Regions from separate parts of the Homo sapiens genome. Here region 2 is linked to region 1. A link means that fine-mapping ties the variant in region 1 to the expression of a gene that starts in the linked region. Tissue or cell type: whole blood. Region 1 holds a variant in brackets; the other region holds the start of a gene. All regions are shown on one strand. Distances are from middle to middle.

Region 1 (8,260 bases):
GCATGCCTATAATCCCAGCTACTCAGGAGGCCGAAGCAGGAGAATCACTTGAATCTGGGAGATAGAGGTTGCCGTGAGCCAAGACTGTGTCACTGCACTGTAGCCTGTGCGACACAGAGAGACTCTGTCTCAAGGTAAAAAAAAAAAAAAAAAAAGAGGCAGGAAGCGAACCTGCAGGAGACGACAGAAGGGGGTTGCTGTGGGGGCAAGTCAGCAGTCTAGGAGGTGGCACAGAGATGACATGTGAATAATGACCAAGGAGCCGGCCCTCCAAGACTGCAGGGAAAAATAACAGGGGCATCCCAAGAAGAGGGAAGAGCTGGCATGAGGCTCTGCTGCAGAGGCCACTGAGGCAAGTGCAAGAACAGAGAGGAGCAAAGCGCGGCTGGAGTGAGACCCAGTGAGGCAGCACGCAGCACCTCCTGGGTCACTCCAAGTGTGAGGGCAGGCCCTGGCACACTGCTTTTCTTAAGAATTAAAAAAAAAAAAAAAAAAAGGCCAGCTGCGGTGGCTCGCTTGAGATCAAGAGTTCGAGACCAGCCTGGGCAACAGGGCAAGACTCCGTCCCTACTAAAATAATAATAATAAAAATAGCCAGGCATGGTGGCATGTTCCTGTAGTCCCAGCTACTCAGGAGGCTAGGGTGGGAGGATTGTTTGAACCCGGGAAGTCGAGGCTGCAGTGAGCCGTGTTTGCACCACAGTACTCCAGCCTGGGTGACAGAGTAAGAACCTGACTCAAGAAAAAAAGTGTTTACTTATGTATAATAGGTAATACATTCACATAGGTCAGAATTCAAAAAGGTACAAGAGCACATGCTGGGAAAGGCCTCCCAGTGAGGGCCTGCAAGCTGGCTGTCCTCGCCTAGGGAGATGGCCTCCAGGTCAGGATCCCTTCAGTGGGGCTCCCTTCACCGGTCTGTCCAGATGGACACATGGCCTCCACCAGCCTATGAGAGATGCAGGAATCCCCACCCCACCACCACTACTTAGTGTAGAGAAAACACAAGCCTGCTCCCCAACTCCCCAAGGGCAGCTTCGTTACAGGGACCCCAGTTTGTCATTAGGAACACTGAGCCACGGAAGCACAGCTTCATGTAGCCGAGGCTGGAGCTTCCGACCCATTTTGCCTAATGGCTCTCTGAGCATGGCCACCTCTGCAATGAGAAGGCACCTGCACAGGCGGCAGCTTCGCGCCGGGCCTGAAAGTCACACCCGGGTGGCCAAGCTTGTTTTTGGACGGGAAGCAGCTGTGCTCCCAGAGACTCAGGCAAGTGGTACCCCTGAGTAACCAGAGGGGGACCCCAGGGGCTCCCGCTCACCCCAGGAAGCATCAAAACATATCTCCTTAGGATAATAGCCACGTGAGCTAGGGTATGGCGCACCTATTCGGAGGCAGGATTGAGGGCACCCCCCAACCTGTGGATGAGAAAACCCAGGCACGGGGAAGCTGCTGGCCCCGGCTGTCCCAGCCAACACGAGGTGGAGAGGAATGAGAATCTCAATTTGAGACTGACCCAGCTCTTCCAAAGACCAGGCCCCACCGGGTCAACAAGGCGAGCTGCCCCCATCCCCAGTCAGGCTCAGGGGACAGGGGAGGAAAAAAGAATAGAATTGGGGGAATTATGGGACTGTGAGGACCAAAGCTTTTTCCCCCAAGTGCCCGGTCACGGCAGACCCAAGGTGCCTGGGGTCGCCTGGGAAGGGCTGCAGGGCTGGGCTCTCCTGCCCCTCACCACAGCCCACAGCCCACAGCAGATCCGACATGTGACCTTTCCACTCTGGGCCTCGGGGACTCCTGGCGTGTGGGCAGGGGCTCAGTGCCTACTGCCCAGCAGAGCCTAGTGAGAAACTGGCCCCCCGCCTGCCAGGGCCACACACAAGAGGACACTTCCAGGTCCAGCCTCTCTCCTCTTTAAGAAGTCACTTGGCGCTGAGGGCCATATTTTTTTGTTTTGTTTTGTTTTTGAGACGAAGTCTCGCTCTGTTGCCCAGGCTGGAGTGCAGTGGCGCGATCTCGGCTCACTGCAACCTCTGCCTCCCAGGTTCAAGTGATTCTCCTGCCTCAGCCTCATGAGTAGCTGGGATTATAAGTGTGCACCACCATGCCCAGCTAATTTTTATATGTTTATAGAGATGGGGTTTCACCATGTTGGCCAGGTTGGTCTCAGGTGATCCGTCCTCCTTGCCCTCTCAAAGTGCTGGGATTACAGGCATGAGCCACCGCGCCTGGCCAAGGGCCATATTCTTTAAGTGCAAGCACAGCCTGCTTTCTTCCTGTGAAGGCTGTAAGTTGTAAGATGCACCAGTAATTATAACATCGCTAAGTGTACACATTAAGTGTAAGAAGCAATTTCCCAATTTTGGCAACATTAAAACGCAAGCGATGGCTGGGCACAGTGGCTCACGCCTGTAATCCCAGCACTCTGGGAGGCTGAGGTGGGCGGATCACCTGAGGTCAGGAGTTTGAGACCAACCTGGCCAACATAGTGAAACGCTGTTTCTACTAAAAATACAAAAATTAGCCGGGCGTGGTGGCGCAGGCCTGTAATCAGCTACTTGGGAGGCTGAGGCAGAATTGCTTGAATCCAGGAGGCGGAGGTTGCAGTGAGCAGAGATCGCGCCACAGCACTTCAGCCTGGGTGACAGAGCAAGACTCTGTCTCAAAATACAAAACAAAACAAAACAAACAAACAAAAAAAGTGAGCAAGCCACGCAACATAGATTTGAGATAATGGTACATACAGCACATCTGGCGGAGTAACACAGATGTTTCTGACTTAAGATTTTTTTGATTCTGCGATAGTATTCAGTAGAAGCTGTAGTTTGAATTTTGATCTTTTCCTGGGCTAGCGATGCACGGTCTGATCCTCCCTCATGACGCAGGGAGACAGCAGCTCCCACAGCTCCCCACAAGCCCTGTGATCAAAAAGGTGAGCGATGACACTCTACAGCCACCGCGCGCCAGGTGCTTTCACCAAACTGTAGGTGTGTTCTGAGCACATTTAGGGTCAGCCAGCCTAAGCCACGACGCTTGGCAGGTTAGGGGGATTAAAAGCATTTTCTACTTCCAGTGGATTTTTCGTCACGTAACCCCTTCGAGGGTGCAGCAGCATCTGTACCTGCTCATATGAGGCACATGACTCAAGGCGGGGGTTGTGGTTGGTTACCTAGGGTTTAATACAACTGAGGCTGGCCGAGAGGGCCAACATTAGGAAGCCATTTTTGACCAACAAATGATTTATTCTACTTAGAAATGAGTCTTCCACATGCCATTAACAACAAAGAGCTTTTTCAGGAAACGGTAAGTCCCCTCCATCTCTTTCTTTTCTCAGACAGGTGCCCTGACCATCCAGAGATAAATAATAAACAAAAGCAGGCCTCCTGGGCTCGCTTTCAGCCATTCATACTCCAAACCCCAAAGCTTTGCCCTCTGGAATCTCACAGCCTGGAAGGGGCCACAACGGTTTCCTAAAGAAAGGGTCAGGAAGGGGCAGAACAAAGAAGACAAATGGAAAGGAGAAATGAAAATCACTACATTTGGGTCAACCACAGGCACACACAAGGCTCCTGTTGTCCACATGTAACCTTAAGCTTCCCTGAAGGGGATGAACCAGGCCCTCGGAGCCTAATTAAATGAACCATTTCCTGGCCAGGCACACAACCCATCACCTGTGTGCAGAGAAGCCAGGGTCTCTCTAAGCTCCCGGCTGCTTTTAATTAAGGACTCGTCCCTGAGAGATGAAGCACAACATACAAAACCACCTTCGAGTCACCAGAATGGAAGTCATCTTGGACTTAGTGCTGAGAACTGCCTGCAGCCGGCCAGCCAGCCGGCAGGAGAAGCTGCCGCCTACAGCCAGGCGATGGCCTCAGGCTAAGGAGCACAGGGAGGCTCCCCTGACTCAGGCTTGCCCCACACCCAGCATCCTGCATGTCTATCCAGACCACCTTTCTTCCCCGTGTTCCACCTAAGTCATCCTTCAGGGTCTGATTCGGCCACGCCTGCCTCTTCCACTGCAACCTCCCAAAGCCGCGACGGCAGAGGCCGTTGCCCCGCCTCTACTCCTGCACCCTGTGCAGGATGCGGTCTTGAGCCTCACAGGTTTGTGACATGCATGTGTCTCCCCAGGGCAGTGATGAGCTGTCTGGACGGCCTCATGCCCGGCTTGATGCTGGCAGGACTTCTGAAGCGTTGGTGGGATGGTGTGGGATGGTGGAAAACTAGGGCCACTTGGGTCAGGTTCTGATCTTTTGAAGCCCAAGCCTGCCTTGGTGGGAAGCAAGTTCTCAGCACTCTTCAGCACCTCCCTTAAAGGAGGGACTATTCTTCGGTGAGTGGGAGACAGACCGAAACTTGACGTGGATGGCATTTCATCTTCCTGACTGCCAGCCCTGAGTTGGATGAAGGTGTGCACCCACTGGGCGTGGGCTGCCGCCTGCTGTGGAGCTGCCGCTGCCCCTCGTACCCTACAC[A/G]GGCTCCTCCTAAAGCCAGACCCGCAGCCTTCCCAGCATGAAGGCAAGCACGGGGTAGCTGCTGTTCTCTTCCCGGACGGTCCTCAGTCCTCGGTCCAGCTTTCTCAGTCCACATTTTTATTAAGGATTATTGGCCAGACGCAGTGGCTCATGCCTGTAATCCCAGCACTTTGGGAGGCCGAGGCAGGAGGATCACTTGAGGCCAGGAGTTCGAGACCAGCCTGACCAACACGGTGAAACCCCACCTCTAATAAAAATACAAAAAAAAAAAAAAAAAGAAATTAGGCACTGTGGCGAGCACCTGTAATCCCAGCTACTCAGGAGACTAAGGGAGGAGAATCGCTTGAACCTGGGAGGCGGAGGGTGCAGTGAGCCGAGATGGCGCCACTACACTCCAGCCTGGGTGACAGAGAGGACTCTGTCTCAAAAAATTAAAAAAAAAAAGATTATCGTATTGGCTTGTATTCTTCTGTCACCTGAAATCTTTTTGGGAAAAGACCAGGTAAAAATACACAAACATAACTCATATATAAGTTGATTTTTCTCCAAAGACACTGTAATTTCACAGAGGATCTCTGTCCTCTCGTTTAAGTGAAAAGATACATAGTGAAACCAAATTTTTGTTCTCGTCAACATTTTAATGAAACATTATTCAAGGGCCTGCTGTAGGTCATAATTCCCAAGAACCTATGGACAACATTAAGTGAGGACTTACTGAACTATCAAAGTTATGATTGGAATAACAGCAAAGATGTTTAGGTCTTACCATTTAAAAGGCATGTAACACACATCCTCATTTTATCATCACAGCAACCCTGCAGAAGGCAGGGGTGTTATTATCCCACATTACTGTTTACAGGTGAAAAAAAGAGGCACAGGTAGGTTAAGCAACTTGGCTATGGTCACACAGCAGGTAATTCAATGAAAGCCATGCGATCCCACCCTAAGGCCGTGCGGACTCTAGAATGACACCTGGTGAGTAACCTAGCAGGCAAAATAATTCAGCTGAAAGAGTCACCAGCTGGATGGTGGCAGAGAGAAGTACTTGGCAAGATTGGTTTTTCACACAAGGTCAACGCGAACGGAACCTCTCATACCAGCCACCTACTAGGGTACAGCATCAAGACCTAATTTCAGGGAGGGAAATGGGAAATGCATCCATTTCATCATCACTGGATACTAAGGGTTAGGCCTGGCCTCAGGCTTTATAAACCACATGTGTGCCAAATGTCCACGTCTAAACCTAGAGTTTAGGGTGAAAACTATGAATGGGCTACCATGGAAGTTACAAAATAAGAATGCAGGGGGAAGCCTGAGGGCGCGCGCCACCCGAATGCGGGAGGAGCCAGATGGGGCAGCATAGGAAGGGCTGTTCTTTACCACTGATCTGGGGGGCTCATGATCGCCCAGAGGGACAGACCAACAGCATCGGGGTCTGTGGGTTGATATTCATCTGCACGTCGACACTGGTGGGGATGCCAGGGAAATCTCACATGTTCTGTTTAGCAGAAACGAGACACCTGAGGCAGAAAGTGACAATAAGGAGTCACACGGCCAGGCAACCATGGGCAATGGCAACGCAGGGGATACTTTAGAATCTGAAAGCCTGTGAAACACCCTCAAGTCCGAGAGGATCTGCTCCATGATGAGGAACTCCGTGACCTCCAGGGCCCACACACGGAGGTGAGCCACAGTCATCCTGCCACACCTGCTCAGTCTCCCGATGAGCCAGGCGAGGTGCTGAGCCCTGTACTCCTCGCCCCAGGGGTCCTGATAGCCCCTTGGGAGGCGAATGACCTTTGAAGCCACAGCAGAGGCTGACCAGCTCAGAGCACGGAGCCACTGAGTCAGAGGGCGGAGGTCTGGCTTCCTCCAACAGATTCTCCAAAAATCCTCACGATCACAAGCTTCTAAACCTCCATGACCTACCATGATTCCAGTAATACTTCTGTTTCCCTTCAAGTGGGAGTGTTTGTGCCATGTTTACGTGTCTGAGTGGGGGAGCGGGTGCTAAGGCAGACTCAACAAGTCGGGTTGCTTCGCTGTTCTCAGCACAAAAGTCACCCAGGCTGTCTGGCCACAATGTTTCACACTGGATTCCTTCCACTGGAGGGATGTCTCATCAGGTTTTGCTGTAATTTCACTGAGTCACCCATAGAAACGACCAAGCAGGGGAGACTGGAGGGGACATCTCCAGGGGGCCACATCTGAGCTGAGTTACAGAAAGTGAGGCAGGGCTGGCAGTTAGGGCAGGTCGCAAAGCAGCCCAAGGACTAAGGTGCAGACAGAGAGCATCTCTGTCTGTCAAAGGCAGACAGCGTGGGATGCCGAATGCTGATAGCTGCACAACTCTTTTTTTTTTTTTTTGTCACCCAGGCTGCAGTGCAATGGAGCGATCTCGAGTACCGCAACCTCCGCCTCCCAGGTTCAAGCAAGTCTCCTGCCTCAGCCTCCCGAGTAGCTGGGACTACAGGTGCTTGCCACCATGCTTGGCTAATTTTTTTATTTTTTAGTAGAGACAGGGTTTCACCATGTTGGTCAGGCTGGTCTTGAACTCCTGGACTCAAGTGATCCGCCTGTCTTGCCCTCCCGAAGTGCTGGGATTACAGGCATGAGCCACCATGCCCAGCTAGCTGCACAACTCTTGCGTGTGCTAAAAACCATTGGACCGTACACTTTAAAAGTGTAAATGTTATGTTATGTGAATTATATCTCCAGAAAGCTGTTGTTAAGAAGGTGAATCAAGAGAGGATATTTTAGGCAGAGAGAACCACATGGATCCAAGACATCACAGGTAGACATCCAGGAAACCAACAGTTTCAGAATACGAGTACGTCATGTGACCCAGAGTTAGGTTGGTAAAAAGTGACCCTGGGTGTCAGGAACCATGGGCAGTGTTGTCTTTCTCCTCACTCTCAGTCGTAGCTGTTTGACTCTTCACTCTTACTACCCAGAGCTTTTCCTACATCAAAATAAACCAAGGTACTGCAGGGACTTGCCACTGGCCTGGAAGTCAGAGCTGGTTCTGCCATGAAACGGTGCTACATGGGGCATGGGCCACAGCTCCCTGGTCTCTGCAATGGATGGTTCTCTGAGAGAGGAGCACTTTGAGGGCTGTGAGTACAGAGGGAGGAGCTCAGGGTGTCAAGAGTGGGAGAGGAAGTCTGGGCCTACCACCTTCTACCTGGTTTATTCAAGTTCTAAGATTTTGCTTAAAAAAAGGGCTGTACCAATTTTCCAAATGTTTGAAAACCACTAGATGAGATAATCGGTAAGGTTCATTTTAGTGTTGACATCCTACGAAGTTTCATAGTTCAAGACTTGAGAGTTACTCAAAAGTTTGTGTCATCCCTCCTAAAACAAACCTTTACTAAGCAAGGTACTCTGAGGCTCAAACCAACTGTGGACTGCCCAGCTCTTCGGTTCACAGCCTTAGGACACAGATGCAAGCAGCTGAGTGAGTTATTCACAAGAAGGGGAAGAAGGAAAAGGCTTGGAACCCATAATCTTCTCCCCTGAATGCCATGTTCAAATTTAAACTCTTAGGGAATTTCTATATTTGTATACAGAATCCAAATTCCCTTCTCTTTTCTCTTCCAGGAGAGATTCCGAGCCCACCCCTTGCCTGCCTCCGAGACCTCAACACCATCCTGCTTACTAAAGGGAGCCCAGTTTTTCCCGCTACCCATGGCACAGGTCTTCGTCAATTTCAGTGTGCCCTTCATGAATCTGGCATGTGGTCACTGGCAGTTAAAGGGGGTGATGATGGAGAGGAGAAACCCCAG
Region 2 (8,000 bases), 110 kb before region 1:
GTCTCAGGGTCTTCTGGGCCCATCTAGAAAGGCTTCCAGAGGAAGAGACACGTATGTGAGACCTGAACCATTCTCTCACGGAAGGGGCGGTGGTGGGGGAAGGGCTTGTTCCAGGCTGAGTGCAGGGGAAGGTAGGGAAGGAAGGGTCCAAGGTGCACAGATAGGCAGGAAGGAAGCAGATGCCCAGTGGCCAGCCTGAGGAGCTTGAATGGCATCCTGAGGGTACCTGGGAGCCATCTGCAGGCTTTCAGCAGGGGAGTGGCTGCTATGCAGAGGGCACAGGGGGCAGTCAGAGGGGCAAAGACAGCCCAGGATGAGCAGGAGTTCTGGAGACCTTGGCCTCTGCAGCCCTGGCTCTCACCTGGTACACAGTGGGCAGGATCCAGCCGTTGCTCTTGCAGAGGGTACAGATCTCGGCCACTTCCCAGGCTGCATAGTTGGAGAGGCCAAGCTCCACGAACTTGCCCTGCTCAGGTGAGGCTCCAGTCAGAACATAGTGCAGCCCAGACCAGGAAAGGGAGGCCAGGGTGGGGCCCCTGGGAGTTGGGCTGTTCCCTGCTCCACCCTGGAACAGCCCTGGTGCCTCTGCTCTCACCATTAGGATCAGGATAAGGAGAGCAGCAGTGGACCACCTCCCAGAGCTCAGGGGTCCCCTCACCTCCTGGTGCAGCTGGTGGCAGGCACGCAGTGTCTCTTCCACCGGGGTGCTGTGGTCTGGCATATGCAGGTAGAAGAGGTCCACTCGGGGACACTGCAGCCGCTTCAGTGACGTCTCCAGCTGGAACCGGAGACTGTCAGGCTTCAGGGAGTTCCCAAACAGTGGAATGGCCTTGGTATCAATTTTCACTGAGAGGAAAGAGAAATGAAATTCAGGGCCAGGCGCCGTGGCTCATGCCTGTAATCCCAGCACTTTGGGAGACTGAGGCAGGCAAATCAGAAGGTCAGGAGTTCAAGACCAGCTGGACCAACATGGTGAAACCCCATCTCTAATAAAAACACAAAAATTAGCTGGGCATAGTGGAGCCCGCCTGTAGTCCCCAGCTAGTCCGGAGTCTGAGGCAGGAGAATTGCTTGAACCCGGGAGGCGGAGGTTGCAGTGAGCCGAGATTGTGCCACAGCACAATGTCTCACAGAGTGAGACTTCTCAAAAAACAAACAAACAAACAAAACAAACAACAAAAAAAAAGAATCTTAGTTCCTAGTGAACTGGACTAACAGGTGAGTGGAGAGTCCTCTTCCCACTTTTCACACTTAGAAAGTCACCTAGGCTGGCAGGAGGGCAGTCACTGGAGCCCTTGAGGCCTAGCAAAGAGCAGGTTTGAGGAACTATTCATATGGAATTTTTCCATTCCACCACCACCCCTCTGCTTCTCAATTGAATTTAACTTCAGATCAGATCTGAGGACTTTCGCCAGCCAACCTTGGACTCAGACAGAAGACAAAGAAGGATTAAAAAAGGAAAGAAAAAAAAATCAGAAATAAGGGCCAGGCAGAGGGTACAGATCTGTGGTGGCTCACACCTGTAATCTCAGCACTTTGGGAGGCCAGAGCAGGAGGATCACTTGAGCTCAGGGGTTTAAGACCAGCCTGGGCAACAAAGTGAGACTCCAGTTTCAATGAATAATACAAAAAATTAGCCGGGTGTGGTGCTACTGTAGTAGTCCCAGCTACTCAGGAGACTGAGGTGGGAGGATGGCTTGAGCCCTGAGAGGTCAAAGCTGCAATGAGCCCTATCGCACCACTCCACTCCAGCCTGGGCAAAAAAGCAAGACCCTGTCTCAAAAAAAAAAAAAAAATCAGAAATATGGTTAGAGCTCTCACTGAGTGGCAGCCGGGTGATCTAGAAAGAGCGTGGCACTGGGATGCACGCACAGGCCAGGTTCGTTCTGGATCTACCATGTGGTGAATCAGAGGAGAAATAAGACTCCACTCAGACACTCAGTGGAAGGAGGCAAATGGTGCTAATACTAAGAACAAACAAACAGCTAACATTTCCCAGCCCTCACTATGTGCCTGCCAGGCATCGGCCTAAGCACTGCAAATGGCATCAGACTGAGGGCGGCTCCTCCTGCCCCTATACACACATCCTCCCCTCCGGCCACACCTGCCTCCTCCAGCACCCGCGGCATTGCCAAAACACATTTGCCTTTCCACACCCATGCCCACTGCCCTGACGCCCTTGCCCCTTGTACTCTTCCTGGCAAACTCCTATCCATTCTTTCTTCACGGGGTCCCTCCCAGGAAGGGGTCACTCTGGGCTCCCCAGCCATCTCTAGAACTGGAGCTTCCTGGAGTGGGTTAGTGTCCATTTCTCTCCAATAGCCTCCGACAGAGCCTCCCACAGAGAGGGCAGTGAGACTCTGTACCACCCCAATCCCTCATCCCCCTGAGGGAGCTGCCAAGGCTTCCGGGCACTGCCACCCTTGTGAGGTGCCCTTGTGAGTACCACAAGGTACTCAGAGCAAAGTCCGGGGCCCCGAGCAGGCTGGCATGTGCAAAGGAGGAAGCAGATAGTGTGCTGGGTCCAAACTCTGATTTTGGACTGTGCCAGGGAGTGCCAGGCGGTAAGAACAGAATTTCTGCAGATCAGGCCCGTCAAGGGCACCTGGAGGGCACAGGTGGGGACAGGAGCTGCACAATGCCAGATCCCAGTGTTTTTTGTGCTCCAGAGAGGGGCTAGCCAAGTCATTCCAGGCAAGACCAAGTCATCCAGGCGTCAGTGAGGGTGCTGGCTACCTCCCGGAAGAGAAGAGAGACGAACAGAAGAGAAGACGAGAGAAAAGTTGTCCGGAGCTAGACGTGCCTAAGGAGCCTGGTGTTCCCAAGGCTGCGAGGTGAACAGGGGTGGGGGCGGTGGGGGGGACAAAACTTTGGGTGCTGCCCCGGGGCCAGGGAGAGCGGGGCGGTACACGGCTGTGGACAGGCTCAGCTCTGCACCGTGCAGGGGGAGGATCAGGGGCCACTGTTACCTCTGCAGTCGCTGCCGCCCAGCCGGAGCCCCAGGCCGCCAAGGATGGTCTCGGACTGGCCCTCGCTGTACACGAAGGCCGTGTCTATCTCGGTGTGGCCGCGCTCCAGGAAGGCGCGCGTGACTGCGGCGCTGGTGGGCGCGTCCATGCGGCGCCCCATCTCCATGGCGCCCAGCACCGTGGCTGGCCGGGCCCGCGACAGCTGCCGGGACATGACGGCGGCAACGGGAGACTGTGACAGCCCAGGAGCCGCGCGCAGCGGTCGGAAGCACCAGGCTCGGAGCGGGCGGCCTCGTGGCTTTAGAGACGGGCTCGGGCCCCGCCCACCGGCGGGTGCAGCTGAGGGCGCGGCCGAAGGTGCCCGACGCCGCCCACGAGCTCGACTCCACGCTCGGCTACTAGGACCTTCTGCACTTGCACCGAGCAAGCAGCGAAATGGCTGTGGCTTCGTACCGGTGACTCGCGTCTTGGAGATTTTAACACTCCTCAACGTCCCCAAGGGTGAGGGGGTCCAAGGGTGGCGACTATCCCAAAAGGCGGGGACTCTTCGGGCCTCCCTGCCCCGTCGTCCCTCCTTCCTCGGCCTTGCCCCGGAGCTGTCCTGGGTTTCTGTCTCCTCCCGGAGGGAGCGCTTACGGGGTGGGGTGGACCTAGGGCTGTCGCGCCTGCCGTGTGGTCCTGGAGAATGAGGCTTACCAAAGGCTCAAGACAGCGTCCCCATGGAGTGACATGGTTAAAGTGTTGAAAGAAAAGAACTGTTGGCATTGAATTCTGTACCTAAGTGAAAAAAAACTGACTGGCTCTGGTGACTTAACGCCTGTAATGCCAACACTTTGAGAGATCAAGGCAGGAGGATCACTTGAGCCCAGGAGTTTGAACCCAGCCTGGGCAACATAGGGAGGCCCTGTCTCAAAAGAAAAAAAAAAAGATAGAAAAATGGACCAGTGCCCAGCGGCAGTGAGCTGTGATAGCTCTACTGCACTCCACCCTGGGTGACAGAGGGCAAATCTGTCTCCAAATACAAAAGAAAAAAAAAGACCAATAGACAGATGGAACAAATGAAAAACCAATAGCAAAATTGATTTAAACCCAATCATATCAATAATTACATAAATATAAATGATGTAAATGCTCACAAGTAAAAGGCAGTGATTGTTAGAATGGATAAAAAAGCAAAACCAAACTATATGGTAAATACCAGAAAGCTATTCAAATATAAAAGCAGAGATAGTTTAAGAGCAAAAAGATGGGAAAAGACATACACTGACAAAACTAAATTTTAAGAAGTTGGAATGGCTAAGTGAATATCAGACAAAGTAGATTGCAAAACAAAGAATACTGGCCCACACAGTGGGTGACATACTAGCCCACACCTGTAATGTTAGCACTTTGGGAGCCTGAGAAGGGAGGATTGCTTAAGTCCAGGAGTTTGAGACTAGCCTGGGCAACACAGGGAGATCTTATCGCTACAACAAAATTTTAAAAATTATCAAATTGTGGTAGCATGCACCTGTGGTCCCAGTTACTTGGGAGGCAGAGGTGGGAGAATCATCTACGCCTGGGAGGTCGAAGCTGCAGATTGAGACCCTGTCTCAAAACAGCAACAACAACAACAACTACCAAAGACAAAGAGGGACATACCATAATGACAAAGAGGTCAATTAATAAAGAAGATATAATTCTAAATATATATGCACCTAAGCATAGATCATCAAAATACATGAAAAACAATAATGGAACTAAAGAACAAGTAGATAAATACAAAATTATAATTGGAGATTTCAACACACCATTCTCAATAGTTGTAGAACAGTTATCAGTCATAATTTACGGAAACTCCGTAAAGGTATACAAGACTCAATGCTATGAACCAATTCCACATAAACAACATGAATAGAATATCCAACAACAGCAGGATATGCATTCTTTTCAAGTGCCCATCCACCAAGATATACCATATTTGGAGGCATAAAACAAGTCTTAATAAATGTAAAAGAGGCTGGGAGCGGTGGTTCACGCCTGTAATCCCAGCACTTTGGGAGGCCAAGGCATGTGGATTAACTGAGGTCAGGAGTTTGAGACCAGCCTGGCCAACACAGTGAAACCCCGTCTCCACTAAAAATACAAAAATTAGCTAGGCGTGGTGGCGTGCCCCTGTAATCTCAGCTACTCAGGAGGCTGAGGCAGGAGAATCACTTAAACCTGGTTGGTGGAGAGTGCAGTAAGCCGAGATCAGGCCATTGCACTCTAGCTTGGGCAACAGAGTGAGACTCCATATTAAAAATAAATAAATAAATAAATAAATAAATTTGAAAGGATTCCAATCATACAAAGTACATCTCTGAACACGATGGAATTAAACTAGAAAATAATAACACAGGCTGGGTGCGGTGGCTCACACCTTTAATCCCAGCACTTTGGGAGGCCAAGGTGGGCAGATCACTTGAGGTCAGAAGTTCAAGACCAGCCTGTCCAATATGGTGAAACCCCATCTCTACTAAAAATACAAAAAAATTAGCCGAGCATTGTGGTGTGTGCCTGTAATCCCAGCTACTCAGGAGGCTGAGGCAGGAGAATTGCTTAAACCTGGGAGGCGGAGGTTGCAGTGAGCCAAGATCGCACCACTGCACTCCAGCCTGGGTGACAGAGAAAGACTCTACCTCAAAAAAAAAAAAAAAAGAAAGAAAGAAAAAAAGAAAAGAAAAGAAAAGAATAACAGAATTTAGAGCCTGAGAGGGAACTGAAAATAAGTAAATAAGTTAACAAATAGAAGAAAAAGGAAAAATAGAAAATAATAATGGAATGATATCTGGAAAATCCCCACATATTTAGAAATTAAATAACCCATGGGTCAAATATGTAATCACAAGGAAAATTAGATCATATTTTGAACTGAATGAAAGTAAAAACAGGACATATCAAATTTTCTGAGATGCAGCCACAGTAGTGCTATGAGGGAAATTTATAGCACCACTTTGACATATTACAAAAGAAGAAATATTTCAGATCAATAATGTAAGCATTTACTTTTTTTTTTTTTTTTTTTTGAGACACAGTCTCACTCTGTCACACAGGCTGGAGAGCAGTGGTGCAATCTCAGCTCCCTGCAACCTCAGCCTCCTGGGTTCAATCAATTCTCATGTCCCAGTTTCCTGAGTAGTTGGAATTACAGGCATGCACCACCATGCCCGGCTAATTTTTGTATTTTTAGTAGAGAAGGGGTCTCACCATGTTTGCCAGGCTGGTCTTGAACTCCTGGCTTCAAGGGATCCTCTCGCCTCAGCCTCCCAAAGTGCTGGGATTACAGGTGTGAGCCACTGCACCGGCCGAGGCTTGTACTTTAAGAAACCACAAAAGGAAGAGTCAAGTAAAACCAAAATTAGCAGAAGAAAGGAAATAATAAAAATAATAGCCAAAATAGGCTGATGTGGGAGAATCGTTTGAACCCGGGAGGCAGAAGCTGCAGTGAGCCAAGATCACTCCTCTGCACGCCAGCCTGGGAAACAGAGCAAGACTCCATCTCAAAGAAAAAAAAAAGCCAAAATAAATGAAATATAAAACAAAAACATCAGCAAAAGTCAGTAAAACCAGAAGTAGTTCTATAAACACATCGCTAAAGTTGATAAACCTCTGGCTAGACTGATCAGGAATAAAAGAGAGAATACACAGATTAACCACACCAGAAAGAGCAGAAGAGACACCACTACAAATTATACAAATTTATCATTTTAAGTGATATTTAAATGTCATTAAATGACATTAAATGACATTTTAAATGACAATAGGGTAGATTATTAAAACCTTTATGTGAATACATTTAGTAAGTTAGATGAAATGGACAATTTCCTTGAAAAACACAAACTACCAAAGTTTATGTTTGGAAAATGAGTAAGGAATGTGTTTGGAAAATGAGTAAGGAAAAATGAGACAGCCGGGCGCAGTGGCTCATGCCTGTAATCCCAGCACTTTGGGAGGCCGAGGCAGGCAGATCACTTGAGGTCAGGAATTGGAGACCAGCCTGGTCAACATGCTGAGACCCCATCTCCACTAAAAATCCAAAAATTAGCTGGGTGTGGTGGTGTGTGCCTATAATCAGTTACTTGGAAGGCTGAGGCAAGGAGAAACGTTTGAACCCAGGAGGCAGAGGTTCCAGTGAGCCAAGATCATACCACTGCACTCCAGCCTGGGCGACAGAGCCAGGCCCCGTCTAAAAAAATAAAAAAAACAACAACCTGAATTTTTTTTTTTTCTTAAGACAGGGTCTTGCTTTGTCTTCTGAGTTCAATGGTGCAATCATAGCTCACTGCAGCCTCAACGTCCTGGGCTCAAGCGATCCTTCTGCCCAAGCCTCCCAAGTAGCTGGGACTACAGGTGCACCTCAATACACCTGGCTAATTTTGTAAAAATATTTTTGTAGAGACAGGGTCTCGCTATATTGCTCAGGCTGGTTTCAAACTCCTGGGTTCAAGTATTCTTCCTGCCTCACCCTCCCAAAGTGCTGGAATTACAAGTGTGAGCCATCTCGTCTAGCCCAGATATTGAATTCTTGATAAAAAAAAATATTTCCACAAAGAAAACTCCAGGTCTACATGGCTTCATTGGACACTTAAGGAAGAAACAACATCAATTCTGGACAAATGTTTCTAGTATATAGAAGAGGAGAGGTCACTTACCAACTCATCTTGAAGCTAGCATTACCAGATACCAAATGACACAAAGATGTTACAAGAAAAGAAACTACACACATATCCTTCATGGATCTAGACACAAAATCCTCTTTATTTTTTTCAAAAATCCTTTTAAAATTTAGCAAAATGAATACAGTAGTAAATACAAACAATAATGCACCATGACCAAGTTAGTTTCATCCCAGGAATACAAGGTTGGCTTAATATTTTAAAATCAATCAATATAATTTACTATACTAACAGGCTATAAGACAAAACCCATATCACCATCTCAATAGATGCAGAAAAAGCATTTGACAAAATTTAATACCTATTCATGAAAGGAAAATAAACCTCTCAGCCA

Evidence for each region. PIP is the estimated chance that this variant, and not a neighbour inherited with it, causes the effect.
Region 2: it holds the start of AKR7A3, and the variant in region 1 is fine-mapped to the expression of AKR7A3 in whole blood (TOPMed, PIP above 0.99).

The regions. Positions count from the first base shown.
Region 1 is chr1:19,392,052-19,400,311 of GRCh38, forward strand. All of the region lies in intron 2 of CAPZB (capping actin protein of muscle Z-line subunit beta), which reads right to left. Among named protein-coding and RNA genes, the nearest start is that of SLC66A1, 84 kb to the left of the region's middle. RefSeq lists an enhancer at 984-1,123. The variant A/G (reference allele first, on the strand shown) is at 4,476.
Region 2 is chr1:19,285,527-19,293,526 of GRCh38, forward strand. AKR7A3 (aldo-keto reductase family 7 member A3) reads right to left here and starts at 3,244. Exons shown (of 7, transcript NM_012067.3): 1 at 2,970-3,244; 2 at 659-846; 3 at 362-466. The coding sequence starts at 3,183. LOC124903867 (a long non-coding RNA gene) reads left to right here and starts at 2,534. Exons shown (of 3, transcript XR_007065521.1): 1 at 2,534-2,834. LOC100506730 (a long non-coding RNA gene) reads right to left here. Exons shown (of 1, transcript NR_037847.1): 1 at 7,721-8,000. RefSeq lists enhancers at 2,477-3,299, 3,300-4,121.